Regions from separate parts of the Homo sapiens genome. Here regions 1 and 2 are each linked to region 3. The links come from fine-mapping of genetic effects on gene expression. A gene starts in region 3. Each other region holds a variant in brackets. All regions are shown on one strand. Distances are between the middles of the regions.

The links. PIP is the estimated chance that this variant, and not a neighbour inherited with it, causes the effect.
Region 1: its variant is the best candidate, but not a certain one, in a credible set for the expression of ATF5 in aorta (GTEx, PIP 0.53).
Region 2: its variant is the best candidate, but not a certain one, in a credible set for the expression of ATF5 in whole blood (TOPMed, PIP 0.63).

What each region holds. Positions count from the first base shown.
Region 1 is chr19:49,795,727-49,800,945 of GRCh38, reverse strand. It overlaps AP2A1 (adaptor related protein complex 2 subunit alpha 1), which reads right to left. Exons shown (of 23, transcript NM_130787.3): 7 at 5,208-5,219; 8 at 1,994-2,144; 9 at 1,451-1,619; 10 at 1,180-1,317; 11 at 796-978. It overlaps LOC124904742 (a long non-coding RNA gene), which reads left to right and starts at 796. Exons shown (of 2, transcript XR_007067290.1): 1 at 796-1,341; 2 at 3,389-3,600. RefSeq lists an enhancer at 222-722. The variant TCTG/G (reference allele first, on the strand shown) is at 3,092.
Region 2 is chr19:49,903,322-49,908,540 of GRCh38, reverse strand. It overlaps NUP62 (nucleoporin 62), which reads left to right. Exons shown (of 3, transcript NM_016553.5): 3 at 1-1,716. The coding sequence ends at 302. It also overlaps a transcript of IL4I1 not described here. Among named protein-coding and RNA genes, the nearest start is that of IL4I1, 9.0 kb to the right of the region's middle. RefSeq lists enhancers at 1-625, 1,267-1,386. The variant A/T (reference allele first, on the strand shown) is at 2,150.
Region 3 is chr19:49,927,139-49,932,357 of GRCh38, reverse strand. ATF5 (activating transcription factor 5) reads right to left here and starts at 3,153. Exons shown (of 3, transcript NM_001193646.2): 1 at 2,958-3,153; 2 at 1,330-1,626. The coding sequence starts at 1,507. NUP62 (nucleoporin 62) reads left to right here and starts at 2,854. Exons shown (of 3, transcript NM_016553.5): 1 at 2,854-3,032; 2 at 4,543-4,664. It also overlaps a transcript of IL4I1 not described here. RefSeq lists silencers at 2,364-2,413, 3,264-3,323.

The sequences.
Region 1 (5,219 bases), 130 kb after region 3:
AAGGGCGTGGAGAGGACAACAATGAGCGCCCTCTCCGGGATCGGTGGGTGCAGCCACCTACTGACTGGTGGAACACTGAAAGCTCTGCTGCAGGTGGGGTTATAGGTGGGAAACTGAGTCACAGAAAGGTTGAGTGACGGGCCCAAGCTCACACAGGAAGTAAAACAGGGCTGTGGGCCGGAAGCAGTGGCTCATGCCTGTAATCCTGGTACTTTGGGAGGCCGAGGCGGGCAGATTGCCTGAGCTCAGGAGTTTCAAACCAGCCTGGGTAACATGGTGAAACCCCGTCTCTACTAAAAATACAAACAAATTAGCTGGGTGTGGTGGCGCGTGCCTGTAGTACCAGCTACTGGGGAGGCTGAGGCAGGAGAATGGCTTGACGCTGGGAGGCCGAGGTTGCAGTGAGCCGAGATCGCACCACGGCACTCACTCCCCACTCCAGCCTGGGCAACAGAGTGAGACTCCGTCTCCAGAAACAAACAAACAAACAAACAAAAAACAGGACTGTGTGGGGCCCCTTTCCTGGGGCAGAGGGAAACTACCGAGATCCGGGGGCCAGGACTGCACACTGGGTGCCCCATGCCCATGCCCTGGGGACTCCTCACATCAGGCCCATGAGACCATAGCCCTGGGTCCCCTGGGTTGGCCCAGAGAGGCAGAGGCCCCATTTTGAGGTCACGGCAGTGCAGGAGAAGGAGGGTGGCTGCGGGCTGGCAGGCGCCACGGCCCCGGCCATCCTTGCTCTGCCTCTAGGTCCTGTCGTGGGGTCATAGGGTCAGGGTCAGGGATGCTGACCTCAAAGACGGTCTTGGCGGCATAGCCCTGGACGTCATCACGGTTGGTGACGATCTGTAGCACACGGTACCACACCTCCTCACTCACGTAGTCGCCCGCAATGCGGATGAGGTTGAGGATGGTGTCCACGTACCAGCTGTAGTCCACGGCGTACTTCTCGGCCAGGATGGCCACCTTCAGGACCTGCCGCCGGGGCGTGTGAGAGAGAGTGTGCCGCAGGCCATGTCGGGCTTTCACTCACCTGGATCTGGGCTCACCACTGCCCCCATCTGGAGACCCAGGAGTCCAGGCCCCAGCCCCTCCTCCCTTAGACTTAGGAATCCAGGCCCCCAGCCACCTCCTGCCTCAGACCCAAGAGTCCAGCCCGCACCCCACAGCACTCACGATCTCCTCGCGGATGGCGTAGTCTGCCGTCTCCAGGTACCGCAGCATCTCCGACACGATCTGCTTGGCATTGCTCCGGTCACACATGGCGTAGAGGAGGTCAGCCGCCCGCTGCCGCACGCTGACGTCCCGCTCCGTCTGAGGGCGGAGAGCAGAGCCCAGGTGTGTTTTAGACTCCCTGTTGGCACAGGGTTGGCCACCCAAGGGCCTCTGAGCCTCTGGTCTTTCTGAGGGGGGTGGCAGGCCCGGGGTGGGCTCCAAGGGCTCACACCTTGAGGGCATTGATGACGGTGTCAATGTGCGTCTTGACGGCTTCATGGGAGAACTCGGAGCTGGCCAGCGTGCACATGCTCTCCAGGGCCAGGTAGCGCAGGTTGGTCTCCCGGTGCTGCAGGAACTGGCCCAGCTGGTTGCAGGCCCGAACCAGGAGGTTGGGCTCACTGCCAGCAGGGGCCACAAGAGAGGGATGGTGAGAGAAACTGACAGGAGAAGGTGGAGGACTCGGGCCCCAGCTGACCCATCTCACAGCCCCCAAGGATCCAGGTCTTAACCTTGCCGGCCTTGCATCGCAGTACTGCACCTCCAGTGACCCAGACAACTGGGCCTTTGAGCCCAGAGAAAGATACCTAGCAATTCTGCCCCCAGGAAGGGCCCCAGCACCAACCTCACAGGTGACACTTCACAGCCCCATCCTCCTCCTACCCTACCTAAAAGTCAAGATTCCCTGCCCTCTGCCTAGGACTCAGGAGTCCGGGCCTCCATGCCCCTCTTTCCTGGCCCCAGGCATCAGGCCCTGATAGGCCCAGGCGGGCACCTGTCATAGTGGATGATGAGGCTGATGGTCTCGAAGAGGATGGCGTTCTTGGCGTTGGAATGCTGCACCTTCTTGGATTTGGGGGGCTCCTGGGCCTTGTTGAGCACAGTCTCCAGACATTCCACCAGCCGCCCCTTCACAGCCGCATCCTCTGGGGAAACGAAGGGGACGCCCCCGGCTGAGTGTCCTGCCCACCTGGCACACCTGCTGGGGTGGTGGCCATGCCCCAGCTCCTGTCTTCCAAAGGAGGAGCTCGGGGTGCCTCTGACACTCGAGAATTCTGCAGCTCAGGGCCAGGGTCTCTGCTCCCTCAACCTCTTCCCAGCCCAGCAGAGATGGTGAGACAAGGCACCTCTGGAGACACAAGATCTATCCCCAGACCTGGGCTCTCCTCCTGCTCTGACCCTCTCGGGCAAGAGGTGGCACCATGTGAGCCTCAGTTTCCTCATCTGCAGCTCTGAGGCTCCTTAGGTTTCTCACAGAGCAAAGGAAGCTCCAGGAACCTTCCCCAGAGGTGCCCCCAAACCCAGGCCTTCCCAAGGACTGGTGTGAGTGCTGAGCAGCCCCTGACAAAAATGCACAAGCCACCCACCCAAGTGTCCATTCAGCAAGAGGCCACTGCAGGCACACTCGGTGCCATCCTCCTGGCCTAGAGGCTGGGAGGCCAAAGGAGACAAGGCTCAACCAGGTGCCCCCTCACCCCCCAGAGCTCTCCACCACTGACAGATGCCAGCCAGCAGCTCACAGGAGCACCAATCACCACGTTTCCTAGAATGTGACGTGTTTTCAAGTGTATGCAAGAGCTGTCAAGCGTTCCAGCAAAAAATGGTTCCGCAGATTTTTCTGCAGAATTTTCCGCAGGAAAATTCACCAGATAGAGGAACAAGCTAAAATACACCACAAGGCAGCAATGAGCCCAGTCGCCACCATGGGACACACAGCAATGGCATCTCCTGGTTTCTCCATAAACAGGTGTAGGGGGGCTAGTCCAGACTACGAGAAATAACAAAGACAGAATCCAATTTAAATCCTATTTTTTGGAAACAGGGCAACTATGTTGTCCAGTCTGATCTCAAACTCCTGGGCTCAAGCGATCCT[TCTG/G]CCTCAGCCTCCCAAAGTGCTGGGATGACAGTGTTAGCCACTGAGCCTGGCAGAATCCGATTGAATATGTGATCCTAGATTGTACTGTGATATATATTCTGTTTTTTTATTTTTTTATTTTTTTTTGAGACAGAGTCTCACTCTGTCACCCAAGCTGGAGTGCAGTGGCACAATCTTGGCTCACTGCAACCTCCACCTCCCGGGTTCAAGCGATCTTCCCATCTCAGCCTCCTGAGTAGCTGGGACTACAGGCATGCACCACCACACCTGGCTAATTTTTTGTATTTTTTGTAGAGATGGGGTTTTGCCATGTTGGCCAGACTGGTCTCGAATTCCTGAGCTCAAGTGATCCTTCTACCTCGGCCTCCCAGATTGCTGGGATTACAGGCGTGAGCCACTGTGCCTGGCCCAGAACAACATATTTAAAGGCAAAACATCATGATGTCTGTAATTTACTTTTAAATATTTCAGAAGAAAATAAACAAGAGCATGCATACATGGCAAAATGTGAAGTCCAAGTAATGAAATCTCTGTACTTATCTGGATGCTGGGAAACTTTTCATAATGCATATGACAAAAAAATGACTTGCAAACAAATTGGCAATAGCCCACCACCATTTGCTGAAAAGGAGGTGACACAGGGTTGGTGTGTCCTCAGGCCCAGCCTCAGGACAAGGCTGTGTCTCCAGTTCCTACACCACCGAGGGTTGGAGTGGGTGAGGTGCCTGCAATGGGTGTACCCCAGAATTACCAGCTGGGCCTTCTGGGGTGGTCATGGGCTTAGAGCATGACTTAAGCCCTTCTTGACAGGACGAAAAAGAGGCCCAGAGAAGGAAGACATGTCCCCAGGGCCACACAACAGAATTCATCACTGGCTTCACACACGATGGGCCTCTGGTGTCACCTCCATATCGTATACTCAGAGTGTGTACACACACACCATGTGCAGAGGGACATGCATGGACACACGTAGATGCTGGCAAGCATTGAGACACGCACACACAGGCATGCACACAGGTATCTACACTCATGTACACATCCACTTGCATGCACAGGTACACATGTAGATGCACACACTGATATATACACATGTACACACATAGAGGGACACAGAGATACCATGAACACTGCCACATATAGACACAGACACGCATACATACAGATGCACACACAATGACACATCCACACACAGGGGATGCACGCAGACATGCATGCACACGGGCAGGTATCGACACACACAGGCGAACGCATGCACGCATGCAGGCATGCACACAGACAGGCATGCACACCCAGAGATTTGGTGGTGTACATCAGCCCTGGCCCCTGGCAGGTGCTGGACATGCTGGCTGAATGGAGGGAACTGGTGCATTAGCACCTACTGTGTGCCAAGCCCCTCAGCACAGGGTCCGAAGAAACTGCTCCATGAGGTCAGTCAGCCAAGGCGACAGAAGCTCGGGGGAGCTCAGTGGCAGAGGGAGGGGTTTAGAGCAGAGAGTCTGGGGGCCAACTGCCACTTACTGCCTAGAATGGTGATGTCTCACCTCCAAGCCTCAGTTTCCCTGTGTGCATATCACACTGGCTGTTCCTCCTTGCCAGCTCTGTTCGGCAGGTGCAGGTGCCCCCTGCCCAGTGCCTGGCTCACTACAGGAGTTTCATACACACTGGCTATTGTGACTGTGAGCAGTAGGGGAAGGTTCCCAACAGATGTGAAAACCCCTGACAGGGCTATGGTAATTCAGGTAGCACGGCCTGGAATCACCCACTGACCGGGTGAGTGACGCTGGGCCAGGAGCTCCCTCTCCAAGCCTCAGATTCCTCATCTATAAAACAGGCACAGTTAACAGTCCCTCGCAACAGGGCTGGAGTGAGAGCCCGGGTAGCAGGGACCTCAGCTATGAGGCTGATCCACGATGCTGCACAGGGTAGGCGCTGGGCCTCGGGCTGCCTGCTTGCCTCCCCGAGTGCAGCCACGTAAGGGGACAGAGGAACCGCCCCAGCTTCAGAGAAATCCTGACCCAGACCCTCCAGTCCCACCTGGTGCGCCGTGGAGCAGGAGGCCCCCAGATGCCAGCAGCAGGCCACCCCGGGTTGGGGAGTGCACGGCGTTCATTACCTGGAGGCGGGT
Region 2 (5,219 bases), 24 kb after region 3:
TGCAGCACGCGGATGAGGAGCGTGAGAAAACCTACAAGCTGGCTGAGAACATCGATGCACAGCTCAAGCGCATGGCCCAGGATCTCAAGGACATCATCGAGCACCTGAACACGTCCGGGGCCCCCGCCGACACCAGTGACCCACTGCAGCAGATCTGCAAGATCCTCAATGCGCACATGGACTCACTGCAGTGGATCGACCAGAACTCGGCCCTGCTGCAGAGGAAGGTGGAGGAGGTGACCAAGGTGTGCGAGGGCCGGCGCAAGGAGCAGGAGCGCAGCTTCCGGATCACCTTTGACTGAGCGACAGCAGCCCTGGGGCCCGCAGGTCCCTAGGGAGTTCATGAGGGGAATGCGCCCTGTTGTCTGTAGTTTGGGGTTGTGGCAAGATACTTGTTTGTTTGTTTCTTTCTTTCACATGACTGCCCTTGACATGATCGCTGTGTGCTTTGCGTTTTTCCATTTAGGAGGGTATTCTGGGCCTTCTGCCCAGGCAGCAGCCTCATGGGTGTGGCTTCTGTGGCTTTCATTTGAGTATCTTTGGCCCCTTTTCACCTACTGCGACCACCCACCTCATCCTGGCTCAGCCTGGTGATGGAGAAGTGCTGATGGTCTTGGTCCCAGCCAGGGTCGTGGGGGCAGCCACTCTCTCCAAAGCATAGTCATAGGTGTCATGAAAAAATACCAAATGTAAGAGAACCTCCAAGTCAGGGCGCAGTGGCTCACCCCTGTAATCTCAGCACTTTGGGTGGCCAAGGCGGGCAGATGACTTGAGGTCAGGAGTTCGAGACCAGCCTGGCCAACATGGTGAAACCCCGTCTCTACTAAAAATACAAAAATTAGTCAGGTGTGGTGGACGCCTGTGATCTCAATCTCAGCTACTCGGGAGGCTGAGGCAGGAGAATCACTTGAACCCAGGAGGTGTTGCAGTGAACCAAGATCACACCACTGCACTCCAGCCTAGGCAACAGAGACTCTGTCTCAAAAAAAAAAAAAAAAAAAAAGAAACTCCCAGGAGACAGCAGCCTAGTTTTCGAGTGTGAGCTTGTGCTTGTGAAAGCTAACCATGCTAACCACCAAGGCAAAGCAGCACAGTGTGAATAGAACAGAGCGGGATCAAGAATTTCACAGAAGACAGGTCAGCTGAGGGGCCTGCACACACAGGGTGTTGAGGAACCACAGATGGGCGCCGAGAGGCCTGCCTTTTGCCTGGCCCAGGCTCACCCCCACCTTGGGCCTCACCTCCTCCAGGAAGCCTTCCCAGCTACCCGAAGCTCAGGTGGCCTTCTTGCAGGTCCCCGTAGCACCCTGAGCCTGTACCTTGGGTGGCACTTGTTATGCTATCCTGTGCTAGCCGTTTGTGCCTCGTCTCGCTGTTAGATTGTGAGTTCCCATGGGCAGAGACCCACTGTCGTTCCCCGTGTGTCCCCAGCCCGGTCCCTGTCACATTTGTTAAATGAAAGAACAATGAAGCCCAGTGTAACGTCAGTCCACAGAAATAGCCACAGCTTCCAGTGGTGGCCGTAGACTTGGCTCGGAACTTAGTGGCACCAGAGTAACTCTAGTCAGTTACAGTAAAATCCACTGTGTGTGGAAGGCAGAAGCTAGCGGTTGTATCCCAAGCATCTTTTGTATTTGTCTTTATACTTTGCTGAATTCTCTGAAATACCTATTACTGTATGTTGCTTTTCTAAATAAATGTATTGTGAAACCAAAACAGCTGCTGTTAATATGGATAAATGTTAGGAGGAGAAAGCTGAGTAAAAAGAGCAGGTTCCAGGAGACTCTGCAGGGGTGCCATTCACATGAAACGCACAGGCAAGCAAATGAAGTAGTGCTTGCATAGACATAGGGGTATGCGATGAAGCAGCTTTTGTTTGATGAGACAGAGTAATAGACAAATGCAAATCGTGGTTTGCTCCAGGAAGGGGTGGTGCTAGTGGTAGAAGAGGAACACACGAGTGAAGCCGCCACGGGGAGTGGGCTCCAGGTGTTTTGTGACAGTTATGTCGTAGAATATACACAAATATGGCTGGGCGAGGTGGCTCACACCTGTAATCCCAGCACTTTGGGAGGCCAAGATGGGCAGATCACTTGAGGTCAGGGATTCAAGACCAGCCTGGGCAACATGGTGAAACCCCGTCTCTATA[A/T]AAACTACAAAAAAGTTTGGTTGTGCGTGGTGGCACGCAACTGTGGTCCCAGCTACCTGGGAGGCTGAGATGGAAGGATCATTTAAGCCCAGGCCTTTGAGGCTGCAGTGAGCCATGATCACACCACTGCACTCCAGCCTGGGCGACAGAGCAAGACTCTGTCTCAAAAAATATACACACATGTTAAGTCATCTAGTACCATCCCTAAGGCGCTATTCCAGTGGTTACAGATGTCATGGGCAGCATTCCTTCCTGTCACCTGGGGCTAAAGACACGGGCCCAATGCTCTTCCTCCACCCTCCAGCCTCGCTCTATGGACTGGAATGGTCCTAAGCACTCAGATCTCCTGGGCTGTGGGGAGTGGAGTGTACCCCTTTGGCCTCCTGCTGCCTGTTCCATCTCAGTCTGTGGGCAACACTTGGGAGATTCATGGCCCAGGTTCCAAAAGTCTCCCGAAGTCATGATCATGAGTCATTATTTCCTTGGACCGGCCAGGTGCGGTGGCTCACACCTGTAATCCCAGCACTTTGGGAGGCCAAGGCTGGCAGAACACCTGAGGTCAGGAGTTCGAGACCAGCATGGCCAACATGGAGAAATCCCATCTCTACCAAAAATACAAACATGAGCTGGTGGCTAGTTAAGTGGCGGGCGCCTGTAATCCCAGCTACTCGGGAGGCTGTGGCAGGAGAATCGCTTGAACCCGAGAGGTGGAGGTTGCAGTGAGCCGAGATCATGCCATTGCACTCCAGCCTAGGCAACAAAAGCGAAACTTCGTCTCAAATAAATAAATAAAATTTCCTTGCACCATCTTGGGCTCTGGAGGACAAGAGTTGTGTCTAAGTAGAAACCATGGGTGTGTGTGGTGGGAGCAGTAAACCAGAGGAAGACCCCACAACCCAGCTACTTCTCTCTGAAAGCTGTCACCTACAGCAGGGACCTTTTCCTGCAGTTCATAGGCCTTGACTCATATTGTCCCCTCTGCCGGAAGGGAGGCCTTGAGTCCCCTTAGGAGGTAGGAAGCAGTTTGCATTTTACCTACATTTGTGCGTTCAGCATCCATTTTTAGAGCTGATCCTGATCTGGTGCTGGAGGTACCAAAAAATGCCCACAAGGTCGTTGGCAGGGGCCACACAATCATGATGAGAAAATTTGAGCATGTATTTCCAAAGTGTACATGTATATTTTTCCTATTATTTTGCATATTATTTCCTATTTTGTATATTAACCATTAGCAAAGCTTAATTGCTTTCTTATAGTTATATTTTTAAAATAAATTCCAGCTTTGGGAGGCCGAGGCGGGTGGATCACCTGAGGTCAGGAGTTTGAGACCAGCCTGGCCAACATGGTGAAACCCCGTATCTTCTAAAAATACAAAAATTAGGGGCTGGGCACGGTGGCTCATGCCTGTAATCCCAGCCCTTTGGGAGGCCAAGGTGGGCGGATCACGAGGTTAGGAGATCGAGACCATCCTGGCTAACACGGTGAAACCCTGTCTCTACTAAAAATATAAAAAAATTAGCCGGGTGTGGTGGCAGGCGCCTATAGTCCCAGCTACTCGGGAGACTGAGGCAGGAGAATGGCATGAACCCGGGAGGCGGAGCTTACAGTGAGCAGAGATCAAGCCACTGCACTCCAGCCTGGGCAAAAGAGTGACTCCGTCTCAAATAAGTAAATAAATAATACAAAAATTAGCCCGGCGTGGTGGTGGGTGCCTGTAACTCCCAGGTACTCAGGAGAATCACTTGAACCTGGGAGGCGGAGGTTGCAGTGAGCCAAGATCGCGCCACTGCACTCCAGCCTGGGCAACAAAGTTAGACTTCATCTCAAAAAAAAAATTTTAAGTTCTGCATTTTCTTCCCATACCCCAAAGGATCTTGAGCACCCCACTCTGAATAACACAAGTGATTCCATTAAATCAGGAGGCTCTGTGCCCCAAAGCCATGTGAGAAATGGTCCCAACAGGCCTCCTGGGGGAGTCTAGGAGGGATCCCGAGATCGCAGCAGCATCAGCAACCGACTGGGTGCCACCGCGGGTGATGGCTCCATCGTAATTTCAGTTTCCCTTTCCAGGAAGAAAATACACAGATGTGCTTCCTTCCCAGTCCTGACAAATGGCCTTTCCTTAAGTTCCTCATTAATTCATATGAAGACAACACATTTGGTGACTAAATTTGGAATCAGAGGCTTTTAAAGGTGAATCTCAGCTCTTACTGCTTTGCTTTCCCCTGTTTAGGGATAAGAGTGGCAAATGGGGGCTGGGTGTGGTGGCTCATGCCTGTAATCCCGACATTTTGGGGAGGCCAAGGGGAGTAGATTACTTGGGGTCTGGAGTTTGAGACCAGCCTGGGCAACATGGCGAAACCTCGTCTCTACAAAAATACAAAAATTAGCCTGGCGTAGTGGCTCCTGCCTGTAGTTTCAGATACTTGGAGGCTGAGGTGGGAGGATCACATGAACCTGGGAGGCAGACATTGCAGTGAGCCGAGATCGTACCACTGCACTCCAGCCTGGGTAACAAAAGTGAGACCCTGTCTCAAAAAAAAAAAAAAAAAAAAAAAAAACCCAGCACATATAACAGTATAATATGTAGTCAAACCATGAGGGAATGATGACTTTTTATTCTTTTTTAGTAAAAACTAATCATCAATACAATTTATTTTTTAGTAATGAGTGGCTTGCAAAGCAAAAACTCCTGAAAATGTAAATCAGCTCTTATGACCTGGTATGACTCAGCTTCAGCACACCACTGCTCCCAAGTTTTCAGTAAACCCCAAAAATGTCAGGGTGCTTTAAAAATCTGCCCCTCAGACTCAGGGCAGCGGCTCTCCACAGAACCTCCCAGGGAGCAAAGCCCTCACGCTCGGAAGCGAGGTCTGCTTCTTGCACAGCAGCCAGCCCCCCAGCCAGGTTTCAGTGACCCCGGCTGTTCCCCTGCCTGTCCCACAGGACCACACCCTTGGCTTCTGCACACCAGGGCCCTGGTGACTTCAAACACAGTGACCCACATGGGCGCCCTTGTCCCGTCTCCCCTCCAGACACCATCAGGTTGAACCCTCTCAGACGCCAAAGG
Region 3 (5,219 bases):
CTGACTCACGTCTCATTCAGGTGCATCTGTCCCATTCATTCAGTAAAACAACTAACCACTGAATCATCAAACCAGTCAATAAACCAACAAACCAGTGAAGAAACCAATAAACCAGTCAACGAACCAACCAACAATCAACCATCTAACCACCCAGTCAACCAACCAACCAACCAACCAACCAATGAACTAGTCGACCAATCAATCAGGGAATCGGTCAACCAACCAAATAAATCAGTCAACCAACCAATCAACCCATTAATCAACCAATGAACCAGTTAACCAAAACCCAACAAATTAGCCAATGAAAGAATCAGTCTTAACCCATAAGAGGGTCCAGGAGAAAAAAAAAATTAAAAAAGAAAAAAAGAACCAGCCAACCAACCAATGACTCAAGCAACAGTCAACCAAGCATTTCTTCAACCATTCCAACATCTCCTTTACCGAGTACTCTGTATCTGTGGTGTCTCTATTCTCTCTTTTTAAAAGGCAAACTAGATCACATTACACACACAGATACACACGCACATATGCCTTGTTTCATCTTTACTCATTAATTATTGAAAACCCACTATGTGCCAAGCATTTGGGATACAGTAATGAATGAAATGATTCCTGCCTCCTGAGGGCTTCTGCATATACAGTTCCCTCCAACTAAAATGCTCTTCCCTTGGGTGTTTTCCTCATTCCTTCCCTACTTTTTTTTTATTTTAAGGGATAGGGTTTCACTCTGTTGCCCAGGCTGCAGTGCAGTGGCATCATCTTGGCTCACTGCAGCCTAGACCTCCCAGGCTCAAGCGATCCTCCCACCTCAGCCTCCCAAGTAGCTGTGACTACAAGCGTGAGCCACCATGCCTGGCTAATTTTTTTTTTCCTATAGATATGAGGTCTCGCTATGTTGCCCACGTCCTGAACTCCTGGACTAAAGCAATTCTCCCCGCTTGGCCTCCCAAAGTGCTGGGATTACAGGCCATCATGCCTGGCTTCCTTCCCATCATTTATGCCTCAGTCAACATGTTACCTACTTGGAGAAGGTTTTCTGGCTACCCATTCTATATTAGGTCCCCTTTGTCATTTTGTAGCTCAGCTGCTAGGTGTTTTTGACTTATTCCAATACACTCTCATTTAATTTATCTCTGGTCTACTCCCCACAGTGTGAGCTGCTGGAAGGCACAGACCATGTTCTTCTTGTTCCCAGCCGTATCCTCAGCACCTAAAACAGTGCCTGGCACATTGTAGGCACTCAATATTTATTGAATACATGGATGAGTTCTTCCTCCCCCATCTTCCCCTGCCCTCCACTCCCCAGCTCCACCTTCCACCTGCCCTTACCTGCCAGGGGCTCTCCCCCCACTGGAAGCCCGCCCTCCAGGGCTCCCCCAAGGACCTCATAGGGAGCCAGGGGGGCAGGGGCCGGGGGGAGTTTCCCATAGTCTACGAGCCATCCCAGCCCACTAGCTGGGAGCAGGGCCCTGTCCAGCTCCAGCCCCAGGGTCGCCAGGAGTGACATGGCTGTAGCACAGGTGCTGGGCACTGATGGCAACAGGAGAGGCTGCACCAGCAGCTGGCACGAGGCTCTGGAGGATGCTCAGGTGGGCGAAGACAGGCACCAAGGCGAAAGTGGAAGACCTACACGCGTGAGACAAGAGTGGGTGTGGTCAGGACAGCGTCATCCACCGGCCAAAATCAAGGGGAAGCCAAGCCACACCCCCAGGCACGTCCATGAGGCTCCTCCCTCCCCCTTCCAACCACCGTTTAGAACACTAAGCCTCAGCCTCTCCGAATTCTAAATTTGCCCTTTCTTTACCCAAATCTCTGAGCCCCACCCACTCCCAAGGGAATTTCTTTAGGTCCTAAAGTAGGACCGATGCCCCACCCCTTCCCCCAATACAGAAAAAAAAAACCTAAAGGTCTCCCAGGGGAATTACCTTAGGCCCCTCCCATCCACCTCAGAATATTTCGCCTCAAGGAAAAACTCAATCCCAGGGACATTTTCTTCCAGCCACGCCCCTTCCTCTAAAATATTTCCTTTTGGCCCCACTGCCTTCCTAGCTTCCATCCCAAACCAGTTCCCAGGGGAACTGCCCCAGGCCGCAGCCCTTCAGCAATGTTATCCACTCAAATCCCACTCCTCGCTCTGCCGCTGCCCCTCCAAGCCCCGCCCCTCATTGTTTATTTAGCTCCGCCCCTCCCCCGATTCCCCAGAGGCCCCGCCTCTTTGTCACATCGAAACCCCACCCCTCAACTAACGGTTGGTTTAGCCCCGCCCCTTCTCACAATGTGCTTCCGAAATCCCACCCATCGTGACGACAGTGGTTCTATCCCCACCCACTTAGAGGGTTGCCTCTGGGTCCCGCCTTCTGCCCTGTCAATCTAAGCCAGTCCCCGCCTCAGCAGGTGCCTGGTTTAAAAGGAAGGAAGCTGGGCTGTGAGCCAGAGCAACGTGGGGCAGGGAGGGTGGAGGAGGGTAGAGGGGGCACGCGGAGAACGGCTACCCGAACGCCACCCGTCCACACGCGGCTCTGCGCCGAGGGCCAAGGCGCATGCTACGTCGCCCGAGCGGTCCAATTGCCTTTACACCTCCGCCCTCTTGGGGATCAATGCGCATGTGCGGCCATTCAGGGTCCGCAGCTCTTTCACTACGGGGCACTGGTGGGCTACTGCGCAGGAACAACCAAGCACGAAGAATCGTTTAGAAAAAAAAAAAACACACCCTCCCCTGGAGTGCTCAGGCCCAGCTGCACGCGGGCTGACAAACATCGAGTCTAGAACTCTCCCACCCGGCCCCGGGCCCAGTGCGCATGCGCAGCCGCGCGCCTTCGGCCCACCGTACTACTTCTGCGCCTGCGCGACCGTGATTCCCCGCTCGCGACTCCCCACCCCCCAGGGCTCCCTAAAGAGGGCCACGAGCTGCGAAAGGGCGGGAAAGGCAGTTGGAGAAGAGGTAAGCGGTTACTCACTCCATGGCTGCAGCAAGGAGAGGCGGCGGCGGCCTCGGCTGAAGAAAGAAGGTGGGAGCGGAGAGCGCAGGCGTGGTGAGCGCGGAGACGGGCCGGGGGCACAAAGGGGTCGAGGCTACAGAGCCATGGCCGGGGCTACGCAGGCAGAGGCGGCGACACTGTAGTGAGAAGAGACTGTGATCCGAGGACAGGGAATGAGGCGGCCCCGGGGACTGGGGACAGATATATACTGGGTGGCGGAGCACGGCCCTCCCGGATCCTTCCGCGCCCCGCCCTCGCGCGGCCCCAACCGGGAGGCAGCCGGGTCCCCTCCTCCTGGGGATCAGGGGATCCGAGCCTTTCCTTCCCACTCCTAGGGTCCGGGACCCTCCTCCCTCTCAGCTGGGGATCCGACCTCTTCCCTCTGAGCCGGGGATCCAGCCCTCTCCTTGTGGCTCCGGGGTCTGGTTTCCTCCTCCTGACTCTAAGCTCTGGTTTCTTTCTCTTTCTGCCTCTGAGGTCTGGGCCTGCTTCCTCCTGTGATTTTGAGGATCCAGCCTCATTCTCTTCCCGCAGACCTGCACCAGTTCATTTCTCTTTCCCTTTCCTTGCTTGCAGAATTTCCTGCCAGTCACTTTTCACTTCTTCATCCCCCAGCTGCTGACTCTGAGAAACCCTCGTGGGTTAGAGTCCAGCATGAGTCACAGCACTCTCCCAAATACAGACCTGCCAGGATGGCCTCGGGCAAATAACTTAAGTTCTCTTACTTCATTTCCCTATCTGTAAAATAAGAAAAATCAACTCGCCTGGTGGGTTTATGAGACTCAAATAAGACGATGTCTGGCAAGCCTTATGCACAGAGCTCAACTCATACATTCCTGTTCAACTGTTTTTTTTTTTTGAGACGGAGTCTCTCCGTCTCTGTCGCCCAGGCTGGAGTGCAGTGGCGCGATCTCGGCTCACTGCAAACTCCGCCTCCCAGGTTCACGCCATTCTCCTGCCTCAGCCTCCCGAGTAGCTGGGACTACAGGCGCCCGCCACCACGCCCGGCTAATTTTTTGTATTTTTAGTAGAGACGGGGTTTCACTGTGTTAGCCAGGATGGTCTCAATTTCCTGGCCTCGTGATCCGCCCGCCTCGGCCTCCCAAAGTGCTGGGATTACAGGCGTGAGCCATCGCTCCCGGCCTCAGCATATTTTATTAATAGGAACTCTGGGGCCCAGTCTCATTTCTTCCTTACCACTTGTAAGAGCCGCAGACGTTGGACTGTCCAACACCTGCTGTCATTCTTCTGTCTCCCTCATCCCTCTAAAGTGTCTGTTTCCAGCTATCCTCATCTTCCATTCCAAATGATGGGTGCCCAGGCCCCATCCCCTGGCAGGGATTCAGACATCGAGGCCCCAGCTGCGTCCTTTTCTCCATCCCTTGCCCTTGGCTTCCTTTCAAACCGTCCTTCAGCTTCCACTGGATAGGAACTATCTCCCAACCCTGCCAAAAATGGAAGATCTCCGTTTTCGTTTAGTCACAGGGTAGCCATCTTGCCCCTTCTCATGCACTGGGCCCTCCTCCACCAGCCGAGGTGGATGTCCGTCTTTTCTCTGTTGCAGAAACCCACCTTGTCCCATCCACATCAGGACATCCCAGCTGGAGTTCAACCTTCATCCCTTCTGTGGCAGTTAGGAGACTGAATCAAGGTCCAGAGAAGGTGGAGGAATCCTGATACTGAGCGGTACACACAAGCTTCTTTCTCCTTCCTTACCTGTTGCGGGCAGGAAGTCCTTCTTGGGATCTGACCACCTTCCCTTAGAGCACTTACTGTCCACTCTGCCAGTTTTTGAGCACTTGCCCTATATTTTCTTGGGCCTATAGGGGCTGTGTTATCACTGAGGCAGTATACAGAGTAGCAGCTAAGAGCATAGACTGAGCTTGTCCCACCCGTGGGCCTGCATGCGGCCTAGAACAGCTTTGAATGCAGCCTAACACAAATTTGTAAACCTTACCAAAACATGCGAATTTTTTGCGATTTTTTTTTAAGTTCATCAGCTATCAATAGTGTATGTTATGTGTGGCCTAAGACAATTCTTCAATGTGGCCCCAGGAAGCCAAATTTTATACATACCTGGCATAGACTCTGGAGCCAGATTATATGAGTTCAAAACTTGACTGCACCCCTCTTACTAGCTGTGTGACCCTGGCCATTTCCCTTCCCTGTGCCTCAGTTTCCCCTGTGGTACGAAGTGGCATTAAGAATACCTACCTCTGGACCAGGCACGGTGGCTCATGC